Regions from separate parts of the Homo sapiens genome. Here regions 1, 2 and 3 are each reported to be linked to region 4. Evidence: microRNA targets listed by miRTarBase, many of them from high-throughput screens and not tested one by one. Region 4 holds a microRNA gene; each other region holds the end of a gene's coding sequence.

Evidence for each region. The annotated mature microRNA hsa-miR-5008-5p reads UGAGGCCCUUGGGGCACAGUGG and lies in region 4 at 2,521-2,542, opposite strand. An mRNA with a match to its seed (bases 2 to 7 or 8) in the 3' UTR can be bound and repressed. Matches are read on the target gene's strand: a 7mer-m8 pairs with bases 2 to 8, a 7mer-A1 pairs with bases 2 to 7 and ends in A, and an 8mer does both.
Region 1: miRTarBase lists UNC93B1 as a target of hsa-miR-5008-5p. Seed matches in the 3' UTR shown: 7mer-A1 at 334-340.
Region 2: the mRNA of CARD10 is a reported target of hsa-miR-5008-5p. Seed matches in the 3' UTR shown: 7mer-m8 at 708-714.
Region 3: miRTarBase lists RGL2 as a target of hsa-miR-5008-5p. The part of its 3' UTR that is shown has no 7-base or 8-base seed match.

Annotation. Positions count from the first base shown.
Region 1 is chr11:67,987,640-67,991,839 of GRCh38, reverse strand. It overlaps UNC93B1 (unc-93B1 regulator of TLR signaling), which reads left to right. Exons shown (of 11, transcript NM_030930.4): 11 at 1-740. The coding sequence ends at 294. Among named protein-coding and RNA genes, the nearest start is that of UNC93B1, 14 kb to the left of the region's middle. RefSeq lists an enhancer at 3-608.
Region 2 is chr22:37,487,444-37,491,651 of GRCh38, reverse strand. CARD10 (caspase recruitment domain family member 10) reads left to right here. Exons shown (of 20, transcript NM_014550.4): 20 at 259-1,290. The coding sequence ends at 493. Among named protein-coding and RNA genes, the nearest start is that of MFNG, 3.2 kb to the right of the region's middle. RefSeq lists an enhancer at 3,866-4,208.
Region 3 is chr6:33,288,514-33,292,721 of GRCh38, reverse strand. It overlaps RGL2 (ral guanine nucleotide dissociation stimulator like 2), which reads left to right. Exons shown (of 18, transcript NM_004761.5): 17 at 178-292; 18 at 409-1,068. The coding sequence ends at 620. It overlaps WDR46 (WD repeat domain 46), which reads left to right and starts at 3,483. Exons shown (of 15, transcript NM_005452.6): 1 at 3,483-3,620; 2 at 3,709-3,918; 3 at 4,028-4,108. The coding sequence starts at 3,552. PFDN6 (prefoldin subunit 6) reads right to left here and starts at 3,121. Exons shown (of 4, transcript NM_001185181.3): 1 at 2,802-3,121; 2 at 2,478-2,548; 3 at 2,272-2,396; 4 at 1,789-2,006. The coding sequence starts at 2,865. The coding sequence ends at 1,877. It overlaps MIR6834 (microRNA 6834), which reads right to left and starts at 2,477; the gene lies at 2,397-2,477. RefSeq lists an enhancer at 3,355-3,888.
Region 4 is chr1:227,939,121-227,943,120 of GRCh38, forward strand. MIR5008 (microRNA 5008) reads right to left here and starts at 2,563; the gene lies at 2,470-2,563. All of the region lies in intron 1 of WNT9A (Wnt family member 9A), which reads right to left. RefSeq lists an enhancer at 3,010-3,912.

The DNA.
Region 1 (4,200 bases), not on the chromosome of region 4:
CTGGTGACGCTGGTGGCGGCCGCGGTCTCCTACCTGCGGATGGAGCAGAAGCTGCGCCGGGGCGTGGCCCCGCGCCAGCCCCGCATCCCGCGGCCCCAGCACAAGGTGCGCGGTTACCGCTACTTGGAGGAGGACAACTCGGACGAGAGCGACGCGGAGGGCGAGCATGGGGACGGCGCGGAGGAGGAGGCGCCGCCCGCAGGGCCCAGGCCTGGCCCCGAGCCCGCTGGACTCGGCCGCCGGCCCTGCCCGTACGAACAGGCGCAGGGGGGAGACGGGCCGGAGGAGCAGTGAGGGGCCGCCTGGTCCCCGGACTCAGCCTCCCTCCTCGCCGGCCTCAGTTTACCACGTCTGAGGTCGGGGGGACCCCCTCCGAGTCCCGCGCTGTCTTCAAAGGCCCCTGTCTCCCCTCCCCCACGTTGGGGACGCCCCTCCCAGAGCCCAGGTCACCTCCGGGCTTCCGCAGCCCCCTCCAAGGCGGAGTGGAGCCTTGGGAACCCCTCGGCCAAGCACAGGGGTTCGAAAATACAGCTGAAACCCCGCGGGCCCTTAGCACGCGCCCCAGCGCCGGAGCACGGTCAGGGTCTTCTTGCGACCCGGCCCGCTCCAGATCCCCACAGCTCTCGGCCGCGGACCCGGGCCGCGTGTGAGCGCACTTTGCACCTCCTATCCCCAGGGTCCGCCGAGAGCCACGATTTTTTACAGAAAATGAGCAATAAAGAGATTTTGTACTGTCCTGACTGGGGAGTCCCAGGCCGCGGGGGACGGATGCACGGATGCCCTGGGATGCACGCACGGCTGGCCCGGCCTCTGGGCGCAGTGGTGACAGGCCCTGACCTAGGGGGACCGCGTGGTGTGGGGAGTGCCGCGCCCTACTGGGGGCGGGGCGAGGTGTCCGTAGGCCCCGCCCACCAGCCCTTCCTCCCTCCTGAGGCCCCGCCCCCCCATACCTGCCTGCCTTTGCCAGCCCCAGCCAGGAGAAGGGAGCGGCGGAGCGGCTGGCAGAGACAGAGGAGGGTGTGACGGCGTTGCTGGTCCCCCATGGGTCCAGAGGGCGAGACAGACTCCCGAGACACACCCTCCAGAGGCCTGTGTAGGCATCCTCCGCCCTCCAGCGACCACCCCCGCGTCGGACAGGGTCCACTTCCGAGCCACGGTGGGGTCACCCTGTGCCCAGTAGGGGCCTTGGAAGTGGTGGTTGGAGGCCAGGTACGCTCGGTGACTACCCTTTCCCGGCTACAGCCTCAGCTGCGATGCCCACGAGAAACAGGCTGGTGGAGGGGCAGACCCCCTACAAGGCCTGAAGGTGCCGTTCCTCCACCCGCTCCTCTTGTGGCCAGAGGAGAGGACACCCCCGCCATGAAGAGCTCTGAACGGTTGGGTGAGGACAAGTGGGGGCCGTGGGAGGGCCATGGAGCCCCCAGCTGCACCCCAGCAGGCCCGGGGCTGGCCCACACCATTCCTCACTCCCCACAGCCTCTTTACCCCTGACTTTGGCGAGACCCTCGTCCGTACCTCCAGGCTCCATGCCTGCCTCAGCATCGCTCTATGGATTCTCCCAGCCCTAAACTGGCCCCATCTCTCCTCTCTGCCCTCATGTGAGTTTGGTTCTTGAAGCCTCTAGTGGTCCCTGGGGCCAGACTCTGTGGCCTTGGACAGGGAGTCTGCCATCTGAGCCACAGGTTCCTTCTCTGTTGAGTGTGTGAGGGAACATGTTGGAGCCCTTAGTGTGGCGGCAGCAAGCGCACCAGGCCCTGTAAGAAACACAAAAGGGTGCGGCGGGAGACTTGACATTTTCTAAATCTGGGAGGGAACGCTGCCTGCCTCACGCCGACCTTCAGTGACAAGCAGACTCAGAAGCGGTCCCGAGGTGCCACCATAACCTGGGTGAAGGCCAGCACTGTGTGCTTCCAGTTCCCCCTCGGCATCTGTAGACTGAGTGTTCTCTGGAGGTGGCTGGCGACATCCTCTAGGCAGGCTCCAGCAAAACCAGTCGGAGTTGGGCAACCTGACGCTCAGATGATTCACCTCTGAATGGAGGGCAAGGTGATATTTGGAAGGGTGTGGGCCCCTGGGATGCTGGGCAAACGGGGAGCAGGTGCCTGGATAGTGGGCCTACAGCTCTTCCCAGTTCCGAGTCAATTCCAATGTCCATGGTGCCAAGGAACAGAGGCTGTGATGTTGAGCAGACTTGAAGGTGATCCAGGCACATGGAGTGGCCACTCAGGGGCTTGGCTCCTGGCTGTGCTCTTCCTATCTGGGCATTTCCCATGAGAAGGCTTCACAGGCCACCTGGCTGCTCCTGGCACACGGAGAATGCCCAGATGCTGACATGTGCCAGACAACACATATTTACACCTGATAGGCCACACACATGCAACATGCAAACACACGTGACGGGTAACACCTGTGACAGACACTACATGACAACACACATGCACACATGATGGGAAACACATATCACAGGCTGTGCGACGGGCAACACAGCGCAGGCAGTGCGACGGGCCCTGGCAGCAAGCTCAGCAGGCTGGCTCTTTTCGAGCAGGAGAAGAGCTCATTGTAAGAGATGACACTGGCGTAGGTGGCACCTCCCCTGTCTCCATCACCCCCGGATAAGGTGACTGGGTGGAGGTTCTGGACCCCTGAGTGGATAAGCAGGTTGTGTCATGGCCTCCGTGTCTGATTGCCACCCTCGCTCCCAAAGCAACTCTGTGATTTTGTCGATCTGCACTGTGGGGATTTTTCTTTTTCTTTCTCTTTTCTTTTCTTTTCTTTTTTTTTTTTTTTTTGCAACGGAGTTTCACTCTTGTTGCCCAGGCTGGAGTGCAATGGCATGATCTCAGCTCACTGCAACCTCCATCTCCTGGGTTCCAGCGATTCTCCTACCTCAGCTTCCCGAGTAGCGGGGATTACAGGCGCCCACCACCAAGCCAGGCAATTTTTTTTTTGTATTTTTAGTAGAGACGAAGTTTCACCATGTTGGCCAACCTGGTCTCAAACTCCTGACCTCAGGTGATCCACCTGCCTCGGCATCCCAAAGTGCTGGGATTATAGACGTGAGCCATCACGCCCAGCTGGGATTTTTCAATTATGTGATTCCAAGAATCTCCAGTCCAAGATTTTCCCTATCTTTAAGTTCTCAGTAGCAGGTTAGATAACCTGAGAAGTCTCCCTCTTCAAAACACCTAGAAATGCTGGGTAAGAAACAAATGTCCTTTTAACTATAGAGCTGAGGCCGGGCGTGGTGGCTCACGCCTGTAATTCCAGCACTTTGGGAGGCTGAGGCAGGCGGATCACCTGAGGCCAGGAGTTCAAGACCAGCCTGGCCAATGGTGAAACCCCATCTCTACTAAAAATACAAAAATCAGCCAGGAGTGGTGGCAGGCGCTTGTAATCTCAGCTACTTAGGAGGCTGAAGCAGGAGAATCGCTTAAACCCGGAAGGCAGAAGTTGCAGTGAGCCAAGATCACGCCATTACACTCTAGCCTGGGCAAAAGAGTGAAACTCCATCTCAAAAAATATATAAATAAAATAAAATAAATATATAGCTGAGTTCTTCAGAAAATAAGTTAAGTCCCCTAAGGCCAGAAGTGAAGAGGAGAGTGAGAACCAAGGTGGGGACAGAGGAGCTGGTGCTGCAACTGCCTGAGGGCAGGGCTGGGTTGAGCGTTGGTATCCCTTACAAGGCAGGGGGTTAGGGTTACAGTCAAGCATGATGAAGTTGGGGCCACAGAAATGCAACACCTTTAGAGAAAGGGACAGAAACATTTCCACCCAGGGGAACAGAGAGAGGTGAGAAATTTTGAGCTTTAGGTGGTGAACAAGTTTCCCATGAGATCGTTGCGTTTTCAGGCCTCTCTTATGTAAATGTGGAACTCCTACAATAAAGTCATGCCACCTGTGTGGTCTAGGAATGCCAGAGTTGAGAAATTAACACTAAAAAGTTGCTTTGGGCCGGGAGTGGTGGCTCACGCCTGTAATCCCAGCACTTCAGGAGGCTGAGGCAGGTGAATCACCTGAGGTCAGGAGTTCGAGACCAGCCTGGCCAACATGGTGAAACCCCGTCTCCACTAAAAATACAAAAAATTAGCCAAGCCTCGTGTGCCTGTAATCCCAGCTACTCTGGAGGCTGAGGCAGGAGAATAGCTTGAACCTGGGAGGCAGAGGTTGCAGTGAGCTGAGACTGCGCCACTGCACTCC
Region 2 (4,208 bases), not on the chromosome of region 4:
TCCCTCCCCCTCTCTCTCCTTCCCCCTCTCTCCCTCCCCCTCCCCCCTCCTTCTCCCCCTCTCTCTCCCTCCCCCCTCCCTCCCCCGTCTCTCCCTCCCCTTCTCTGTCTCTCTCTCTCCATCTCCATCTGCCATCTGTCTCTCTTTGGTTGTCCATCTTCTCTCTCTGACTCTTCCCCCTTTGTCTGTCCCTCTCTCCCTGTCTCTCTGTCTGTCTTGGTCCCCCACTTTGACCGCTGCTCACTCTTCTCTCGGCAGGGGTCTGCTGGGCCGGCCGGGCTGGCGGGACTCAGAGCTGCTGCGGCAGTGCCGTGGCTCAGAGCAGGTGCTCTGGGGGCTGCCCTGCTCCTGGGTGCAGGTGCCCGCCCATGAGTGGGGACACGCAGAGGAGCTGGCCAAGGTGGTGCGCGGCCGCATCCTGCAGGAGCAGGCCCGCCTCGTGTGGGTGGAGTGCGGCAGCAGCAGAGGCTGCCCCAGCAGCAGTGAGGCCTGAGGCTCATCTGATACCTGCACCTTCTCCCCAAGCCAGCGTGGACCCTGGTGTCTATGGTGAAGCTGGGCCCTCCCACCCTGAGCCTTCCTAGACCCTTGGACTCTCAGATGCAGGGCCCTTGGCTCTGGCCTCTCACCCCCAAGGCTGTCTCTGGCCCTGCCGAGCCTATGGGAGTCCCGGGACAGAGTGCCCACTCCCCTCTACTTGCTGCTCTGGGCCTCCCCACCTTTCCTGGGGTCTCCACATTCCCACTAGTGGGTCTTATGTGTGTCTGTGTCTTCTCCTTAAACACTCGCCCTGGAGTCTGTTCTCACACCTGTGCGCAGGTTTGCACACTCAAGTTCTCATGGGCAGGCTCAGGTCTGTCCCGCTGCCCTGGGCACGAGGTCTCCTGAGGACCTGGGCCTGTTCTGCTCCTAGGAGACCTGAGCCCGTTACCGCGTGACTCCCACCATCCAGCTCGCGCTCCTCGTGGATTCAGCCATGCATGGACTGGGGTGTTCCCTGGCCCATGGTCACCTGTGCCCCTCGTGTCTCCTCACATGGGTGTCTGTGGTTCTCTCCTGTGTAAATGTCACGCCCCACCCCTGTTTCATGTGGGCACTAACACGTGTGCGTTCCTGGCGGGCACACTCAGGACCGTGCCTCACAGGGCCCACTCCCTGCCTATGCCTCCCTCTTGGGGGGCCGAGGAGGGCGGCTGCTCTGTCATGAGAATGTACGGCCCGTGGATGATTAACGGGCCTTTTTCACTTAGAAGCTGCACATTATGGAGCATTAAACACTTTTGTCATAGATGCTGGTGGCCTTCTGCTTGCTTGTATCCCTGGCCTGGGTCCCCATCACTCTCCTCATTTGTCTCCCAGCTCAGGCGGATACCACCTTTCAGGTCCCCGCTTGCCTGTCAGGAGGGTCGGATTTCCCGCCTGCCTCTTCCCAGAGCCGCCCGCCATCTGTGCTGGCGTCACCTTACCTGCCCCTGAATGACCAGAGGAGGGCCCCACAGATGGGCCACCCCAACGCTCAGCCCTGCCCACAGCTGATCATCAGAGGAGTGTCCCCTGGAGCAGGGCACCAAAACTGGCAGGGTGTGGCCTCCGACTGAAGGGGCCTGGCTGCTGAGCCCAGGAGCTCAAGAGCAAACCCTTGGTATGCACGCAGGTTCCTGAGACAGCTCTACTGGAGAGAGGATGGTTGCTCCCACTGGGAGCAATCCAGGCAGCCTTACTGGAAGAAGTGCCACTTGAGCTTGGGAGTTGGGATTCCTTTCTTCAGGAACCACTTATTGGACCTACGTGTCCAAGTGCAGGTGACTGTCCTCAGCCACAGTGATGAGGCTGGGCAGGTCCCTGGGGCTTGGGGTTGTGGGTGTACTAACTAGGTAGGGTAGCCTCAAGGGCGAAAGCTCAGAGGCAGCACATGGGTTGGATCTGGCCACCTTGGATGGGGTCGGAAATGAGGTTGGGAAGGGCAAGTCCAGGGGTGGGGTTGGGAGCGCAAAGGAGCTTGGGCTGTGCCCTGGAGGCTGTGGGAGCCTCTCAGGATGTGGGAGCAGGGCTATGGGAGCTCTGGTTTGGAGTTGACTTAGAGAGGGCTGAGGCCAATTGGAGTAGGGGGTGGGGGGCAGGGGCAGTGGAGGAGAGAGGAGCAGACAGGAAGGAGGGGATCTGTGGCCTCCAGGGGTGGGTCTGGATCTCCATGTTTGACAAGAAAAATGCTTAAGAAGGGGTCAGGGCTGGGGATTTGGGGTGGTGGGTGGAGAAGGGAATGGAGAAGCTGGGAGAGGGGATTGGGGTGTGGATCAGGGGGCCACAGCCCCATCTTTAGTGGGAAGAGACAAGGAGTGGGTGTAGGGGAGAGGTGGTGAGGGTCTCAGAGACTGGACCACGCAGGATGACGGTGCTTGGGTATGAGGCCAGGGTGGACGGTGGGCCCAGGCTGTCCCGGGAACCCAGAGAGGCTTTCCCAGGATGGAGTGCAGGGTGCGCAGGGCACTGTAGTTTGGTTGAAACCCAAAGCTCTGGTCAGCCAGGAGACCCTGGCAACTCGGGTGGCCTCTCTGGGCCCAGGGCCCTCCCCTGTGGAGTGGAGGCCCGGATGGTGGAGTGAGCATGGAGGTACGGATTGGCCACGGCTAGGTGAGCACGTGTGGCTGGGGCTGAGCCATTGCTTGGGAAAAGGTCTTCCCACTCTCTACGACAGGGTGTCTTTGACAAGGTGCAGATTGGACTTGGAGGCCTGCCAGTCTGTCACCACTGGGGTAGGGGCTGGGGAGCTGGACCCTGAGTGGCAAAGGCGGTGCCCTGGGGGAAGGGCAGCCTCCCTGCATGGGAATCAGCGGCAATGCCGCTTTCTACTCCAGGCCTTCCCAGGTGTTGACTCTCCCATCCCCCCAGCCACATCCTCCCCACCGCGGGCAGTGGCAGTGGCCTTTCAGTTTACCCTTAGCTGTGCTCCTCTGCTCATGTGGCCCCTGCCTGGGCTGCTCTCCCTGCCTGAATCTTCCTGATCTTTGAAGCCTGGCTGAGATATTACGTATCTCCATGAAACCCACCACCAGGTCCTCCCAGCCCTTGGGACTTCTCCTGGCCCATGCCATATTCTGCCTTGTGGTGGGACGAGGGTGTCTGTGTGGCTGTCTCTCGATGTCTGTGGCTTCCTGGGCATGGAAACTGGGCTGTGTGCATTTGGGTACATGAACCTCCCCCTGCCCCACAGTGAGCCTGGCCCAGTGCTTGGCCTGGGGAAAGGCAGGGGCCTGTGACTTGGCTGCCTTTGCCTGTTCCCCGTGTCAAGCATCCTTTCTGTGGGGTGGAGAAGCCCACTCATCCTGTAATCGTCACCAAGTCATATTTTTGTCCCCATTTTAGAAATGATGAAGGTAACTTTCCTAGAGTCATACAGCCAGTGAGTGGCCCAGTTGGGAATTTTTTTTTTTGAGATGGAGTTTCACTCTTGTTGCCTAGGCTGGAGTGCAATGGCGCCATCTCGGCTCACTGCAACCTCTGCCTCCCGGGTTCAAGTGATTCTCCTGCCTCAGCCTCCCTAGTAGCTGGGATTACAGGTGCCTGCCACAATGCCTAGCTAATTTTTGTATTTTTGGTAGAGACGGGGTTTCACCATGTTGGCCAGGCTGGTCTTGAACTCCTGACCTCAAGTGATCTGCCTGCCTTGGCCTCCCAAAGTGCTGGGAGTACAGGCGTGAGCCATGGCGCCCAGCCCCCAGTCAGGATTTAAACCTGGTCTGTGGGGTACAGAGTCTGGGATCATCACCAAGGCTGGCATCATCACCATTCTGAGAATATGGCCTGTGAAGGGGCCTGGCTGGGGGCTGGCCCATGAGAAGGTCATTCAAAGGGTTGGTTTTCCCTTCCTCTCCCCCAGCTGTCCTCATGCAGGGTTGAGCCCGGCAGGGCCACTTCCCTTTGCCAGCCACCTGGTACTTTGTTGTGTTGAATTAACATTGATTGAGTTCTTGTCTGCCGGTCACTGTTCTAGGCACTGGGGATTAGGGACTCAGTGATCAAAAAATAAATCCTGCCCTGATATTCTCATGAGGAGGACAGAAACTTAGTTAAACATACAGAATGTTGGAAGATGAAAAGTGTGATGAAGAAAACAGTGAAGTGGCTTGAGAGGGACAGGCCTGGGGGGCTGGGAAGGAGGCGGCGAGGGGTTGCAATGTTAATAACGTGGTCAGGGAAGGCCTCACAGA
Region 3 (4,208 bases), not on the chromosome of region 4:
TCACTGGGCACCATGTGGGCTGGCTTATGGGGTATAGGAAGCCACCATATTGGGTTTTCCTGTTCATTTTAAAGCCTTGGACACAAGTAACATTTTGTGGTTGGGTTCAGTGGCTGAGGGTAGAAGGATGGGAAATCATGGCTGATTGATTGCTCTTTTGGTCTCCTGTTCTGCCAGGTGACAAGCCAGGACAAGGCTCCAAGTGTCATCAGTCGTGTCCTTAAGAAAAACAATCGTGACTCTGCAGTGGCTTCAGAGTATGAGCTGGTACAGCTGCTACCAGGGGAGCGAGGTCAGAGGCCATGAGGGAAAGGCAGACTCGGGAGGAGAGTGGAGTACTTCCACATCTGGGCGGCTGTGGGGGGAACAACTGTGTGTGTGCTTTACATCCATCCCCTGAACCTTCAGAGCTGACTATCCCAGCCTCGGCTAATGTATTCTACGCCATGGATGGAGCTTCACACGATTTCCTCCTGCGGCAGCGGCGAAGGTCCTCTACTGCTACACCTGGCGTCACCAGTGGCCCGTCTGCCTCAGGAACTCCTCCGAGTGAGGGAGGAGGGGGCTCCTTTCCCAGGATCAAGGCCACAGGGAGGAAGATTGCACGGGCACTGTTCTGAGGAGGAAGCCCCGTTGGCTTACAGAAGTCATGGTGTTCATACCAGATGTGGGTAGCCATCCTGAATGGTGGCAATTATATCACATTGAGACAGAAATTCAGAAAGGGAGCCAGCCACCCTGGGGCAGTGAAGTGCCACTGGTTTACCAGACAGCTGAGAAATCCAGCCCTGTGGGAACTGGTGTCTTATAACCAAGTTGGATACCTGTGTATAGCTTCCCACCTTCCATGAGTGCAGCACACAGGTAGTGCTGGAAAAACGCATCAGTTTCTGATTCTTGGCCATATCCTAACATGCAAGGGCCAAGCAAAGGCTTCAAGGCTCTGAGCCCCAGGGCAGAGGGGAATGGCAAAATGTAGGTCCTCGCAGGAGCTCTTCTTCCCACTCTGGGGGTTTCTATCACTGTGACAACACTAAGATAATAAACCAAAACACTACCTGAATTCTACTCCCCTGTCCTTGCAGTACATATGAACTGGCTGCTATGAGTGGGGGTGGGGAATTGGCTGAAGGTAGATGCCATGGAACAGGAAGGGGCACAATGTTTTCTGTCCCCATGAACAGAGCAAAAAGTGAGGTATTGGTGAAAAAAGTTTCCTCAGAACAGTTTCTCTCCAGTAACCTCTCTACCACTGGTCCCTTGCTGCAAATGTGTATAAAACAATTTTAGGACAAGGAAATGGCAGAACAACTTTATGGACAACATATAAACTTGGGAGGACTTATAATACCATAAAGCATTACATGCTGGGATTTTAAGTCAGTTTAAAGCTACATTCAAGCAAATTCTAGGAAGACAGAGGCTGAAAAGTACTAATAGAGATGCCAGGGCTGTTGGCAAGGAGGGTAACCACATTTCATCCTGGGGCCTCAGGTTAGAGAACTGTGTATTCTTTTTCAATTAAACCGACATTCCTAGCAATATGGTATGTTGCAAATGCCCTTCCAAAAGAATCATGCCAACCAAGATGAGGGAGAGTTAAGGGTTGTATATACAGGCAAGAAGTAGGTTTGAAGACATTTAGGATTTCACTTTCAAGAAAGAACACTGTGCCACAAAGAGATTCCAAGTGCAAGAGTTTGAACCTGAGGGGGTAATACAGGTGGTGTGTGTTAAGGTGGAAGGGGCTGTGGGGATATGACAGAAGTGCCTGGTCAGGAAACAGAGCCAGGTGTTTTTACATTTTATTAGCTACAGTATAGATCCTAGAGCTGCCTCATTCCCTCCCCTCCCCTCCCCTCCCCCCACCATGGGGTCAGGCCTTGCCAGGAGCCCCTGCCTTTGCTGCCTGGGCCCGCTGGAACTCCTGCTGCAGCTGAGCAAGGGTCTCCCTCTGTTGCTCTGACTGCCGCTCAAGATCCCGAAGCTGGGATTCGTATCGCTTACTAAGGAGAGACAAGGGAGACAAGCAGAAAGGGAGAAATTAGTAGGACTCACTATGGAGAGTGCTAAACGCAAGAAAGAGATAGGTGGAAAACTTGAGATCCAGGGGAGGGAGAAGAAGGGGGGTTAAAAGGGAAGGAAAGGGTTGGAGGAACTGGAGGACTAGGGGCCACTATGGAGAGCTGTTCTGCAATGGTTCAACACCTCTACTCCAATGGTTCACTTGCATCACAGGGTGCAGCACACGGTGGTGGAATAAAAACTCACATTTCAGCTGTGATATAGTCCAGCCTCTTCCCTACTGTGGCCCGAGCCTCCCCCAGCTCCTGTTTGACTAGCACCGGACCCAGAAGTTTAAAGACCACGTTGGACCCATCCAGCAGGGCCAGTTCCTGATGGAGGGATGGGACATATGTGATCAGAACCATGGCTAGTACAGGTCCCTCCTCGCCCCACAAATCCCAGTCCCTCACCTCTTTCACGATATTATTTTCTGTTAGTTGTGCTTCAAGTTTCTGCCTCCCCGACATGGATTTACTTAAGTCTGGGGATGAGAGGAAAGGCAATTTAGAAACATCAAATGTGCCACCTATCCCCACAATCCTAGTCAGGTGGATATGGATCTGAGGAAGCAGAAAAGGATGGGGGCAGCGGGTGAGTGAACAGGGAAGAGTACTGAGACTGAGGCGGGGAAGTCTCTGCACGCGAGGGCCCAGATGGGGCAACAAACCTTATCTCGGTAATGGCTTTGGGTTGTAAGTGCATTGGGCGAGACCATACCGACCCTGTTCCCTTACCCTTCTGTAGCTGTTGATATTTCTCCACTTCTCCCTGTAGCTTCTTCTGGATCAGCTCCGCCATGGCGGGGATGAAAGCCTACTGGGTGCGAGACAAGGGCGCTGGGTCTCACTCTCTGGAAGGTACCTGAGCTCCCTTTTCTGATCTGGCCTGCGGAAATGATAGCACTCTTGAGAGGTAGCCCTGAGGGGCACCGCAACCTCCCCCCCGTCCCGGATATCGACTCCACCCTGTCCCCAGGAGATGGTGGGCGAAACGCAAGACCCCAAGCCTCTCAACCGAAATCCTAACCTACTCACGTTCTTCCTTCAGTAGTAATAAACCCGGAAGTAAACAAGGAATGCTGGGAAAAGACTGTGCCGGAAGTTTCTTTCTGACCCTTGATGGGAAGTGTAGTTCTGACATGTTTAGGGAGTGGAGTTCTGCTAAAAAGACTAGACTAGGACATTTTTAGGCAAGATGGGGAAACTAATCCAGAAAAAGAAACCGCACCGCTACTTAGCCCCTGGCTCCGGACCTGCCTTTCTTTTTTAAATCACTCTTGCATAAGCTGCCGCTCGCGATAAGGTGCCAAAAACTGTTCCGCCCCTCTAAGGAGAGCGTGCCCTCACTCAAGATGGCACCTAGAGAGCTTCATACCTGGTACGCTGCTGATTGGATGAAGGACAGAGGGCTTCCGGGAGTTTTCAAGCCGACTGTGTGGCAGCTGAGAGGAGTTTTGCACGTGGATCGCCGTTCGGGTGGGCGAGATGGAGACAGCCCCCAAGCCGGGCAAGGATGTCCCGCCCAAGAAAGACAAACTTCAGACCAAGAGAAAGGTAGAGGCCTCCCTGGGTGGGAAACGAAGTTTTTAGCTGTGGGGTCGGGGGGCGGGGCGTGAGTGCGGAGTTCCTGATGTGCCTGTAGAAACCGCGGCGATACTGGGAGGAAGAGACCGTTCCGACCACAGCCGGAGCCTCTCCAGGGCCTCCTCGTAACAAGAAGAATCGGGAGCTCCGTCCTCAGAGACCAAAAAATGCTTACATCTTAAAGAAGTCTCGGATCTCTAAGAAGCCTCAGGTCCCGAAGAAACCCCGAGAATGGAAGAACCCGGAGTCCCAGCGCGGCTTGTCCGGGGTGAGCGTGGGACCTGATGGGTGGCGAGGCAGGCCGCCTCGTTCCTTGAGAGTGAGAGGGTTGGGGTCAATCCAAGGCTGTCTGCTAATTGCGTCCTCCTTTCCCCTAGACCCAAGATCCATTCCCAGGCCCCGCCCCCGTCCCTGTGGAAGTGGTCCAGAAGTTCTGTCGCATTGACAAATCCCGAAAGGTGAGGTCCAGCCGGAGAGTTGGGAAGTGCTGGAGGCAGGGAGTGTCTGGGTGAGTTGGATGGAGGCTGGGACAGGTAGCTCTCCTGTGACCCCACTTAT
Region 4 (4,000 bases):
GGAAGACGTCTCAACACCCATACGTGGCTGCGGCTGCCATGCCACAGGGCACACAGAACAGTTCCACGCTGCAGATGGGGCCGCAGACAGTGCTGGTCTCAGGAACCACGGGGGAGGTGGCTCCAGGGAGCGGTGACCCGGTCGCCTCCTTGAGCCCTGGAAGCTGGCCGCGGTGGTCAGCACTGACCCCTGCAGAAGCTCCGTGGAGACCATTCCCCAGCCCCACAGGAGTGGAGCTTAGCACACATGGTGCTGAGTCTGGGGACGGCCCCCCGCTCCTCTGGCTAGGCCTGATGCTGCCATGTCCTGGCTGCTTGGGGATTGGGCCACCCTGGGAGGACCCACTCAAGACACCTTGCCCTGAGCCTGAGGGCAGCTAAACGGGCCTTGTCCCCAGAGAGAACCTGAAACACACAGGGACAGCCACCCCACACTGCCAGGTCCCTAAAGCCACAGGCTCCTTCCAGCTCCCAGCACAATAGACAGGAAGTCCTACGGAGGGAGCACACATCACCAAGGCCGGACTCCGACCTTCCTGCCTCCTGCCAGCAGGTCTAGCCACCCTGACCGGGACCCAGCTTTCTCCCCCAGGCTGGGGCAGAGGGAGAAGAGACTGCAGTTCCAGAAGCCACAACACCCCGCCAGCAAAACCTCAGTCCTGCCAGACAGCGTTTAATTTCTGTGTGAAACAAAATCAAAACAAATTCTAGCACTGAGAAACCGGGGCTGAGATCAACTCTCCACCCTCCCCGTGGTCTGCAAATCAACCCAGCCCGAGCCCAGCTTCCAGCCCAAGCACGTCTGCTGTGTCCCTCAGGGCTGCAACGCCACCAGGGCCCAGCTGCACCCAGGAGGTGGGGCACATGCCGCAAGGATGGCACGGGTGGCCTGTGCAGATGCCCAGGTGCCTGCCAGGTGAAGCATCCTCGGGCCTGAGAGAAACACCCCCCTCCACCCTGCTGAAAGCACCGTGTCCCATGGCAGCCCCTGGAATAAGCCCTGCCCTGTCTGTGTCTGCAGCATCCATGGGGTCCCCCAAACCAGACCACAGAGGCCAGCCCAGCTCCCCCAGGCTACTTGGGCTGACTGCCCTTTTCTGGGGCAGGGTCCTGGACCCCAGAAGGGGCATGGCTGGTCTGTGGGCTGCAAGACAGGCAACCAAGGCTGCACGCAGGACCCCCCGGGGGAAAGGTGAAGAGCAGAAGCTTCCAGGAGGCCTCTGTGCTCAGTGACCACAGCCCCCCATGGCCTTCCCAGACAGCCGCAGACCCACACAACTGGTCAGCAGGACAGGGAGAGCCACGCAACCTTCCAGTGGCCACCAGTGTCACCTCCCACACTGTCATCCCTTCTGGAGCTCACTCTCCTGTAGGTGTCACAGAGGGAGCATCCCAAAGTCCACCTGGCTCCCCTCCCCACCCCACAGTGACTCCAGGTCTGCAGCCTCTGTCCCCATCTGGCCAGGAGGGACGCCGGCCCTGACGTTCTCCAGCTCTGGGAGGCTCTGGCAGCAGCTCCTCCTGGGCCAGACCTCCAGCCCACTTCCCCTGGCTGCACTGACCTCAGGTATCGCTAAAAAAAACAAATGCAGCCTGCGGCTTGCCTTTTTCCATCGTCCCATCCGGCCACTGGTCCTGAGGTGCTGCAACTGCCAGCTGGACAGCTGGGCTTCCTCTGGCGGGCAGCGGCGCCCAGCCAGCCAGGACCATGCCGGGAGGGCAACAGGCTCCTGGGAGGGCCCAGGCTGCAGGTCACGGGGCCGGGGCGGCCCAGTGCCACCCAGGTCAGCAGGCACAGCAAGACCATCCCCAGCCACCTGCCACCCTGCCCGGCCTGGACCACGGATGTGCTTGAATATGACCCCTGAAGGAAAACCAGGGTCACGTCCCCGCCGGGGCTGCACTCTGCATGGCTGCTCTGGTGGGGCCATCAACACCTGGCCTATCGTCCACACACGGGAAGGTGCGGCAGCCTGGCAGCCAGGTCTGCACTGCACTACGTCTGGCCACAAGTGTAGACACAGCCCTGCCAGAGTCAGAGTCCTGTAGGACCCGGGGCTGGGCTGCCAGGTGAATGAGTGACACAGATCCACCTGGCAGGGAGAGCCTCAGGCTTGAGGGAGTCTTGGGATAGGAGGGCACACAGAATGCAGCTTGGAGAAGACCCCACAGGGACCCTTCTGGCCAATCCCAGAATTGAGCGACCAGGGAGAGAAGGATGCATCTGAGGAGAACACAAGGGGACCCTCCTGGCTGATCCCAGAGTTGAGCGACCAGGGAGAATAGAATGCATCTGAAGAGACCCCACGGGAACCCTCCTGGCTGACCCCAGAGTTGAGCAACCAGGGAGAGAAGGATGCATCTGAGGAGACTCCATGGGGACCCTCCTGGCAAACCCCAGAGTTGAGCATGCAGGGAGAGAAGGAGGCATCTGGGCAGTCACTGGGCTTCCTGCAAGAAGCAGCAGCTGGGGCCGACCTCAAGGGACAGGCGAGGCCCTGGGAGCACAGGGGAGATGGCACCACTGTGCCCCAAGGGCCTCACCTGACCCTAGGGGTCAGCCCCATCAGAGGTCAACTTCCAGCCAGAAGGCATGGGGTCTGGGGAACCCCCACTCGTGGCTGGCCTTCTGGGTTCTGGGGGCCTGGCTCAGTCCCCAGTCCCACAGACACTGCTGCGGGAGCCACCCTGGTCCCAGACAACTGCACCGGTCCTGACCCCGCCGCCCAGCACAATGCACAAAGGGAGCCCGTGCCGCAGCTGGGATCAGGTGGCGCGACCGAGGCCTGTCAACAGGTGTCGCTTTCCCGCAGCCCCCACCCTCCCACAGGCATCACCTCCTCCCTGCCCCAGGGTCCAGAGCCTCCAGGAGGTATCCGTGCCTGTGTGCTCTTTCCTAGGGGAAGAGTCACCCACACGCTTCTTTGATGGCCAAACCCCAGAGCAGGGCACCCCCAGCCCGGGCCACCCCAGCAGCCGGCGGAAGGTCCCAGGCCAGGGCAGGCACTGGGGCCCTCTGCAGCCTGCAGCAGGGCGGGAGCAAGATGAGGCCAGCTGTCTCCCCAACCAGACGTCCGCCGGCTGTGGACAGGACATCTGCTCCCTCAGCTGTGGCAGGCCAGGCACTGCTGCTCCGTCCTTACCACACACCCTCCACACCCTCCAGGGAGCCAGGACCCCCAAGCAGGTGGGGCAGGGAGAGGCTGGGGGTTCCAAGGCCCCTGGGTGCAGAGCAGGAAGGAGGAAGGCCACCAGCGCCTGCAGGGGCCATCAGGCTGACACTCCAGACCCTCCCACTTACGGCCCCACTGTCAGGGAAGCCAAGCACCTGGGTCCCTCTACTGGCCACGGGGTCCCAGTCCAGGAGTCCTGGAGAAATGCCCCGACTTTCCACTGGCCCTGTCCTCTCCTCTCCATGCTAAGAAGTCCCCAGGGAGTCCCCTGGCCCCCAGGGCCCCTCCTCTCAGCCCTCTGCTGAGGTCTGCCCCACTGAGCCACTTCCACGATCTCTCGAAACAAGGCAGCTCCCTGGCCCCTTTCCTCCCTGCCCTTCTGGCCCTCCAGAGCACTCTGTGTGGCCTTTCTTCCTGATGCCAGGCCCCACATGCTTCCTGGGGTGTCCTAAGTTGTTGGAGGGGGTGGGTCTCCAGGACAGTGCCTGCCCAAACCTAAGCCTGAGCTCTCAGCTGCTCCCAAACCCCCCGGCCCACAGTGCTCAGAGCACCCGACCCAGGCCCCAGCCATGGGGTCACCCCAGATGCCGCCTTCTTGCCAGCTCCTTCCCAGGCTTCTCTTGCCCAGCACACAGCCCCATGATTCCACACCTCAGGCCCACCCCTCCTTCTCCGGCCCTGCCAGGGACCCACAGGTGCCCCTCATCCAGGCAGCCAGCTGTGCCCCAGGCCTGATGCACAGAGAGGCAGAGCCATGGGACCAGGCAGGGTATGTCCTGCCCACAGCCAGCAGCCTCCCTCTTGGACCCTGCGGGGTCTGATGTTGGC